2 separate regions of the Homo sapiens genome follow, and region 2 is linked to region 1. Evidence: fine-mapped expression QTL. Tissue or cell type: monocytes. Region 1 holds a variant in brackets; the other region holds the start of a gene. All regions are shown on one strand. Distances are from middle to middle.

Region 1 (4,399 bases):
ATGTCCATTTTGTAATCATTAAGAAGAGATTAGCCAAACAGAAATAAAGTACGTCTCCCGCTTTCCGCTGGAATTCATTACTTTCTTCCTTCTACTACTGTGGTATGTTTCTACAGGTGTTGAGATCACTGTAACTTTTCCAAGAGATGTCAGTCCTCCCCAAGAAATGAGCCAAGAAGACTTAAAAGAAAAGAAGTAAGGAATATTCTTTGAAGTATCAGATTTGAAATGAAGTATGAAGCAATGATAGTCATATGGCAACCTACATTATTAGTAATTGAATCCATAATAATGCTTAAAAGTAGAGGTCACAATAAATAGTATGTGGCAGAGGCCAGATCATAAACACTTTGGCTGTGTGGGCCATATGGTCTCTGTTGTGATGATTCAACTCTGCAACTGTCATTTGAATGCAGCCATAGACAATATGTAAACAAATGAGTGTGGCTGTGATCCAATTAAAGCTACAGAAAAAGGCTGAAGGCTGGATTTGGTCCCCGGGCTGTAGTTTGCTGACCCTACTGCAGGGCAGAGCTACTTAGAATGTGGTTCTGTGGTCCTGTTACTAGTCCATGATGAGGTCAGGACAGGCTGCGAGGGTGACCATTAAAAAAGTTGCAAAGCAATTTGGCAAATAACTTACGTTCATTGATCGGGTAGTGAAACAAATTGAGGCTTATTTTTTGCATGTCTTTTATTTTTCTTCCATTTTTATGGCAATTCATTTATATTTTACAAAAGTATCAGTTCACAATGACTGGAAATTTAAATGCTGGTTCTTCATCAAAAATAGTTTGAGAAACACTGGGCTAGTCAGTACCTGTGGAGATAAAAGGGTACATCCCCCAGGCCTGCCCTTGGTCTCTGATTTCTCTGTGCAAGGAAATGGTGATTGGGAAAACGAGAGTGAGCTGAAACCTAATCCATCCAAGCGATGGTACAGAGGGCTAAGGAGGCCAGGAGGAGTCAGCAGGTGGAGATGTCTTACCCTCTCAGGATTCAGCCTTTCCTTTCAGCAGCACCATTTGGAAGTAGTTCTTCAAACTTTCTAGTGATGTCAGGCTGAACTGAGGACTGGAGATCCAGAAGATGTGGCAACTGAGTTTTAAATCAAACATTTCCCTCCCCCTTTAGTCTGATAAACTCATCGCTTCAAGAATGGGCACAAGCACATGCAGTTTCTCATCCAAATGAAATAGAAACGGTGGAGCTCAGGAAAAAGAAGCTGACCATGCGGCCCTTAGTTTTGCAAAAAGAGGAAAGTTCCAGGGAGCTCTGCAATGTGAACTTGGGCTTTTTGCTACCAAGATCTTGTTTAGAACTGAACATTTCCAAGTCTGTAACCAGAGAAGATGCTCCTCATTTTCTGAAGGAGCAGCAAAGAAAATCTGAAGGTAAGTTGAACATTGAATTCCACAGTGAGTCCTTTTGGTCAACAAATATTTATGTATTGTGCCAGGCACTGTTCTAAATGCTAGAGATAAAGCAGTGAACATACCAGAAAATAACCCCAGCCCTTGTGTAATTTACATTCCTGGGGGTCATGGGGGTGCGAGACAGACAATAAACTAGTAAACAAGTAAAATGAAGGATGGCATAATGTTCCAGCAGAAAGAGCACTATATGTGCAAATGTTTATATATTTGTTCAAGGAATAGAAGGCAAATATTTTGAGAATATCTTATTGTTTAGATTATTTCATTGCTTATTTCTTTAAACATTTCAGACATTATTTTGTAAACTATACTTGATAATTTCAGTATCAATATCCTACTGATTTGCACTATGGTTGACTTTTTTCTTGAGTGTTTGAAAATCTTCATTGTGAGCTCATATTTGGTTGATGTTTATCTGTGGGAATCTTGGGGGCCCACGCTGTGGATGCTTTTGGCCAGAAGTATTGAATTTACTTCTACCAGGTCCCAGGGTCATTATGGACTTGAGTCTACGTTAGCCTTATTCCTGGATCCCCAAGTTAATGTGCAAGTCTAAGAGCCAACTTCCAACTACATTGAGCCCAAGACTCATTTGCTAGATAGCAGCACTGATGCCAGCATTTCCCCCTGCGGCAATATTGTCTTTGCTACTTGTTTACCACTGTCCTCAACCAACCAGCCAAAACCACCAGGAACAACCTTATAATCCAACAAGTTACATTCATTGATTTATCACAATGAGGGAGACTGCATGCCAGTGGAGCTGTGACACATCCTACCAAAAAAGAAAAAAAAGAATAATTATTATGGGATTTTAAGAGAAGGGTACATTTTAAGTGAAATTTAAATGAAGCAGTGCTTAAAGTTTTTTTTTTTTTGAGACGGAGTCTCGCTCTGTCACCAGGCTGGAGCACAGTGGCCCAATCTCAGCTCACCGCAACCTCTGCCTCCTGGGTTCAAGCAATTCTCATGCCTCAGCCTCCCAAGTAGCTGGGACTACAGGCGCATGCCACCACGCCCAGCTAATTTTTGTATTTTTAGTAGAGATGGGGTTTCACCATGTTGGCCAGGATGGTGTC[G/A]ATCTCTTGACCTCGTGATCCTCCCACCTTGGCCTCCCACAGTGCTGGGATTACAGGTGTGAGCCACTGCGCCTGGCCTAAATTTTTTTTTGTTTTATTATGCTAAAATGTGTGTAACATAAAATTGACCATTTTAATCATTTTCAAGTGTACAGTTCAGTGGCATTTAAGTACATTCACATTGTTGTGTAACCATCACAACTATTCATCCCCAGAACATTTTCTTCTTGCAAAACTGAAACTCTGTGCCCCTTAAACAATAACTCTATATTTCCCACTCTCCCAAAGCCTCTGGTGACCACTATTCTATTTTCTGTCTCAATACGAATTTGACTATTCTAGGTCTTTTATAGAAATGGAATCATGCAATATTTGTCCTGTGTCTGGCTTGTTTCATTTGGCATAATGGTGAAGCAGTGTTTTGATGGGCTATATGTAAAATAGTTCATAAGAAATCTGGACTTGAAGTGGACCTAGACTCTTGTTCCTTGAAATTTACAAAGTTAGTTCCCAAATCTTGATAGCGTTTTTTTGTTTTTTGTTTGTTTGTTTGTTTGTTGGTTTGTTTGAGACACATTCCGGCTGTGTTGCCCAGGCTGGAGTGCAGTGGCGTGATCTTGGCTCACTGCAACCTCTGCCTCCTGGGCTCAAGCGATCCTCCCACCTCAGCCTCTTGGGTAGCTGGGACTACAGGTGCATGCCACCACGCCTGGCTAGTTTTGTTTGTTTGTTTGTTTGTTTTTTGGTACAGATGGGGTTTCACCATGTTGCCCAGGCTGTTACTGAACTCTTGGGCTAAAGTGATCCTCCCATCTTGGCCTCCCAAAGTGCTGGAATTACAGGCATGAGCCACCGTGTTCAGCTTCAACAGCCTCTTTCAGCCTCATATCTTGCCACTCTTCCTTCGCAGCATGATAAACTTTAGCACACTAAATGCCCTCTATTCCCTAAACATGCATGTGAATATTTGCACCTACTGTTCTTTCTGCTGGAGCATTATGCCATCCTTCAGGTTTTGTCTTAGAAACCCCTTCCTCTGGGAAGTCTTCCTGAACTTCCCAAGACTGGATGAGTTGCCCTTTCTTTGTTCCGCTATAGGATCCTGACCTTACCTACAACATAGCACTAATCAAGCATAATTGTCACTATTTGTTTACGTGTTCATCTTCGCCGGATTACAAAAGCAAGAATAATTCAACCTCCAAGCATTTGGCATCATACCTGGCACATAGCCATTACAAATGCACTTTTAATTAATAATAACAATAATCAGGTCCAGGGCAGCACTTTGGGAGGCCAAGATGGGCGGATCACTTGAAGTCTCAAAAAAAAAAAAAAAAAAAAAGAAATAAGAAGTACTAGCTGTGCACAGGCACACGCCTGTAACCCCAGCACTTTGGGAGGCTGAGGCAGGAGCACTGCTTGAGGCCAGGAGTTTGAGACCAGCCTGGGCAACATAGGCAGACTCCACCTCTAAAAAAAGTACATATATAAAAATAAATTTTAAAAATTAGGTGGCTGTGGTGGTGCACACCTATAGGCTCAGCTACTCGGGAGGCTGAGGTGGGAGGATTGCTTGATTCCAGGAGGCCAAGGCTGCAGTGGATGATGATTAGTCCATTGCACTCCAGCCTGGGTGACAGACCTCATCTCTTAAAAAAAAAAGTACAGCTAGTACAAGACTTTCTTCTAGTGTGTACTTTCATATTGCTAAATATCATGTTTAGAATGGTATTTATTAATTGTTCAGTTTGGGCTTCATCTATTAAGATTTATTACTTTTACATTACTTGCCTCACACACAAGCAATGCCCAATTTTCCCAATCTTTGTGTCTATTTTTTTAAAATCAATATTCAATGTCTCTGTTATTATGACTAGGTAA
Region 2 (4,399 bases), 160 kb after region 1:
CCTAATCACCTCCAGAAGGCTGCATCTCCTAATACCATTGCCTTGTGGATGAGGGTTTCACCTGAATTTTGGGGGGGACATACACATTCAGACTGTAGCTCTCTCTAAGCCTCAAAATCCTGTCTGCACAAGGAGGTGTATGCCCTGGAGCTTGGAGCCCTGCTTGGAGGGTCGATCATGCTAGCTAGCTTTCTCAGTGGGATAGTACAGGGGGGCGTTGTCCTCTAGAGACCACCGTGGTGGTTTCCAAAGCATTTCATGTGGATATTCTTTCATACTCAAATAGAGAAAAAAGCTGTAACAGAGGAATTAGTGGTTTTTTTTTTTTTTTTTTTTTTTTTTGCTAGGTATAGTTTATGGCTATTTTAAAATACCAAATACTAAAATTTGGATTTTTCTAAAACTCTCAGATTAGGGAGTATAATCTATTGCTTCCATTACCTGTATCACAAGTTAGTCAATGTGTTCATTGCATCATTCATCAGGCAAATACTCATAAATGAGGGGTAGAAAGTGGTGGGCGCCATAAGATGTAAGAAACTGCATGCAGCTTCTAAACAAGGCAGATGCACTCCCACAAAGTAACTGGTGCATTCCCTTCATGAAATCATTAACATTGTGAAGTGGTTTACACTTCAGTAAACTATGATGAGGACAACAGCACTCAGAACAGCATGTTCCTGTGTAAACATGTAGAGTCCTTTTAGGAAGAGCAGGTTGAGAGGTTTATCTTTTATCGTTAGCTGTGCATAGGATAGGCTTTCAAAGATTTTGTTTTTCAATCCACAGTTTCTACCACCCCTCTTACCTAAGATACCAATGGACAAAGAAATACTTAAGATAAACATTCTTCAATGAGACAACTATGAGAAGAAAATAGTTTCATCTATTTGCACAATGAACCACATTTAATTCAAGTTTGGGTTAATTCATTTTCCCTCACTTGGGATAAAAAAGTTGAAACATTATCGGTGGTGTGAAAGTACTGGCAGAATGCTGAAGATTGGGTAAAACCTGATATTAAGCCTGAACAAACCTCTAGCCAATTTTACATTTCTTTCATGTTCCTCACCTTCCTCTTTTTATATTCATTCAAAAGTTCTTAATGACAAAAGGAAATTTCCATCTTTAGAGAAACACAAAGAATACTCTCTTAGGAGATGTCACTGTGCAAAAGCTTCATGTCATTTATTCTCGGGTTTTTTGATGTACCTACTTCCTAGTTCTTCAGGACAAAGATTTATAGAATAAAGAACATCAAACAGTAAAGGTTTCAGGCAGTGTCCTAAAATAGACTAAAAAAATTCACAAAGCTATCTCTTGGTGCTTCTAAAACTTATTTTAAACATTTTGGAAAGGAGATATATTTTAGAAGTCCTTGAAACCGATCACATTCCATTTTTAATGGTCTTCTACTTAAAATTGTAACTTTAAATTCTGTAGTTGGCATGTATCTTCCCAGCAGCTGAATATGTGATTTTTGAAAAGGTAAATCTGCCTTATTTAAATTGTCCAGATATTTTAAAGAATGGTTCATTTGAGGGAAAAAAGGGTTTCTGAGAAAGCACTTATTTCTTTAATCCAATGTTATTTCAAAATAAATATAAAAGTCATTTTTAAAAGCTAGAAAATCAGAACTACCAAATGATTTAACCCCCTCGCCCCCCACCAAAGCAGATAAACTAGACATCTAATTCCACAAAGAAGAGAAAGGCATTGAGAAACCCTGGAGAAGTTTCAGAAATAATTCAGCAAATTAATTACCATTACCTTTTTTAGATCTGGCCATTCTTTTGGTAGAATATGACTATGGATGTCAATTTTCATCTCCACAGGATCAGAGAAGCATGCAAGGAAAGAAGTTTTGATATCAAGAGACCTTTGTGAAAACTGTGGAGTTAATTGATTTACTTAGTCCCTTTACAGCAACCTTCAGGCAGCAGTCAGTAGGCCTGCCCAACCCAGTCTAGGTCCATTAGAACTGCTTTATTAAAGTTCAAAGTTCTGTTTATTTGTTAACCAAGCTTTGGTTAACCAAGCTTTATTTGTTAATCAAGCTTTGGGTCAACACAGTTTGGTAGTCAGGACTCTTGGCACAAAACTTAAAAAAACAAAAACAAAAACAAAAACAAAAAAACAACTGTACTCAACTGTATGAGGTCAAAAGCACAGCAGGATGCTTTGACTTACAGCAGGTCAAAAATTGACTGATTTTTCATTTTAAATATTTTAACTTAGTTGTACATAGTTAATAATTAAATAGTTTGTAGTTAAAAATAAAACCATGCAGAGGGCTTTTACAGAAAAAGGATAGATCCCTGACTCACCTTTTCTTACTTTTCCTTGCACTATTCAGAAGCAGCCAGTTTTTATGATTTTGCTTTTTGTTCAGTTAGTTACTCCCATATCTTTAAATAATATTTAACAGTTGTCTTGTTCATGAAAATTTAACGTGTTGAAAAGTTATGGGGAGGTTTCACATTTTAAATCACAGAAAGAGTCCACTCTTCATATATGTTTTTTCCTCCAGTGCCTTTGTCTTGGACTCATTCATTCATGCATTTTTTTCCTTTTTTTTTTGTTTTTTAATTTGAGATGCGGTCTCACTATATTGCCCAGGCTGGTATGGAATTCCTGGGCTCAAGCAATCCACCCACCTTTGCCTCCCAAAGTGCTGGGATTACAGGCGAGAGCCACTGCACCCAGCTTCATTCATGCATTTAACAAACATTTATGGAGAACTGCTATATGCTGACGATGTAAGGTTGACTGAGAGAAAGATGATACATATCCTAAAGTGTAGGGAAAAGAAGATAGTAGCCATTTCCATTTAGCATTATCAGAGCAGTCAGGGAGGGCTTCCAATATAGCAGAAAGTGGGGCTTATATGGTCATGCCTCTAAAGAGAGCCTGGAACAAAACAGCCCTTGATTGTTCTGTGTTTACCCTTTCCTCTTCCTGAACAGCTTAAAATGTTCAAGGGACCCCAGGTCCCCTGGCAAACCCTTAAACCTGCCTTGGTTGCTGCCTTCAGCTCAGACTCCACAACACATAAATTGAGTAGTCAAAAAGCTTCCTTCTGTAATTCAGCTAGATTCTGGATAAATTATAACAGACAGCTTGAAAGAAAATAAAGGAAATCCTTGAAATCCATTTTTTTAGAAGTTCAGTGAGCTAAAACTGAATGAGTAAGCCTTAAACTAACATGGAGGCACTTGCTAATACTGAGTAAGTAAGTGCAAGCATTTTTAGAGCACTCCCAATGGGCCAGGCACTGGTCCATGAATTTTAATAAAGTCGGTTCACTTATTACTCATAACATTCCTGTGGGGGAAGAACTAGGACCAATATTCATTTTATAGAAGAGGAAACTGAAGCACGGAGAAGTACCTTGTTCATGGTTACACAATAGTGTGTGGGAGAACTGGAATTAGAATCCAGAAAATGTGGCTTCAGACTCCTAGAGATTTCAGGGTTAATATCCCACAAGGGAATGGGAGATAATAATATGGGCTTGTACAAAACTGAAATGCCCTCATTACACTAAAAGTCTTGAAGGATCTAGACCCTCAGGGAAAAAGTAGTCTAGGAAAAAAATCCATTGGCCAAAAAGAGGGAGTCTGTAATGAAACCTGTCTTCACTATGAGGGGAAAAAAAGAGAAGAAATAACAATTTTCTCTGAGAATTTCTTTGAGAATTACTATTCAAGGTCACCCACTAAGATTTTAGTTAAAGTACCACTCACCTACTTCCTCCCACCCTGTCTTAGTCAATTTAGTGTTGCTTTAATAGAATACCTGAGTCTGGATAATTTATAAAGAAAAGAAACTCATTTGGCTCACAGTTCTGCTGGCTGGAAAGTCCAAGAACATTGCACCAGGAGCTGTTTGGCTTCTGGTGAGGGCCACATGCTGAGGTACAACATGGTAGAAAAGCAGAAAGGTATGCAGATGTGTGCAAAGAGGGACAGGACAAAGGAGGCTAATGAGTTTTATAACAACCCACTCTTGGAAGAACTAATCTATTTCTATGAGAATTAATCCAACCTCAAGAACTAAACCAGGCTTGTGAAAAACCCATCTTAACAGCCTAATCACCTCTTAAAAACACCACCTCCCAATGCTGCTACATTGGCAATTATATGTTAACATGTTTTGGTAGGGAGAAATTACATCCAAACCCTAGTACTACTTTTGACCAGAAAAAGGAAATGTAAATCCTCCCTGAAGAAAAACATCCCAATTCTGTCTCCTCAGTATTGCCACAGATTAAGCACCCCCAACAAAGTATTGTCTCACAATAAAAAAATTCTACACACATGAGGAAAAAAGTCACTATGAGCAGGAGTCCACAGATATAATAAATAATAGATTTAAACCTCCAAGAATGTTTACCAAG

Which allele goes with the higher level. Positions count from the first base shown, and alleles are read on the strand shown. Sizes are in standard deviations (SD) of each study's normalised expression.
As copies of G replace A in region 1, the expression in monocytes of the gene that starts at base 1,894 in region 2 goes up (large effect, 0.75 SD a copy in Quach 2016).

The links. PIP is the estimated chance that this variant, and not a neighbour inherited with it, causes the effect. A credible set is the group of variants that fine-mapping cannot tell apart.
Region 2: it holds the start of ACMSD, and the variant in region 1 is the best candidate, but not a certain one, in a credible set for the expression of ACMSD in monocytes (Quach 2016, PIP 0.88).

Annotation. Positions count from the first base shown.
Region 1 is chr2:134,995,733-135,000,131 of GRCh38, reverse strand. MAP3K19 (mitogen-activated protein kinase kinase kinase 19) reads left to right here. Exons shown (of 13, transcript NM_025052.5): 7 at 117-195; 8 at 1,135-1,394. Among named protein-coding and RNA genes, the nearest start is that of MAP3K19, 50 kb to the left of the region's middle. The variant G/A (reference allele first, on the strand shown) is at 2,516.
Region 2 is chr2:134,836,111-134,840,509 of GRCh38, reverse strand. ACMSD (aminocarboxymuconate semialdehyde decarboxylase) reads right to left here and starts at 1,894. Exons shown (of 10, transcript NM_138326.3): 1 at 1,771-1,894. The coding sequence starts at 1,827.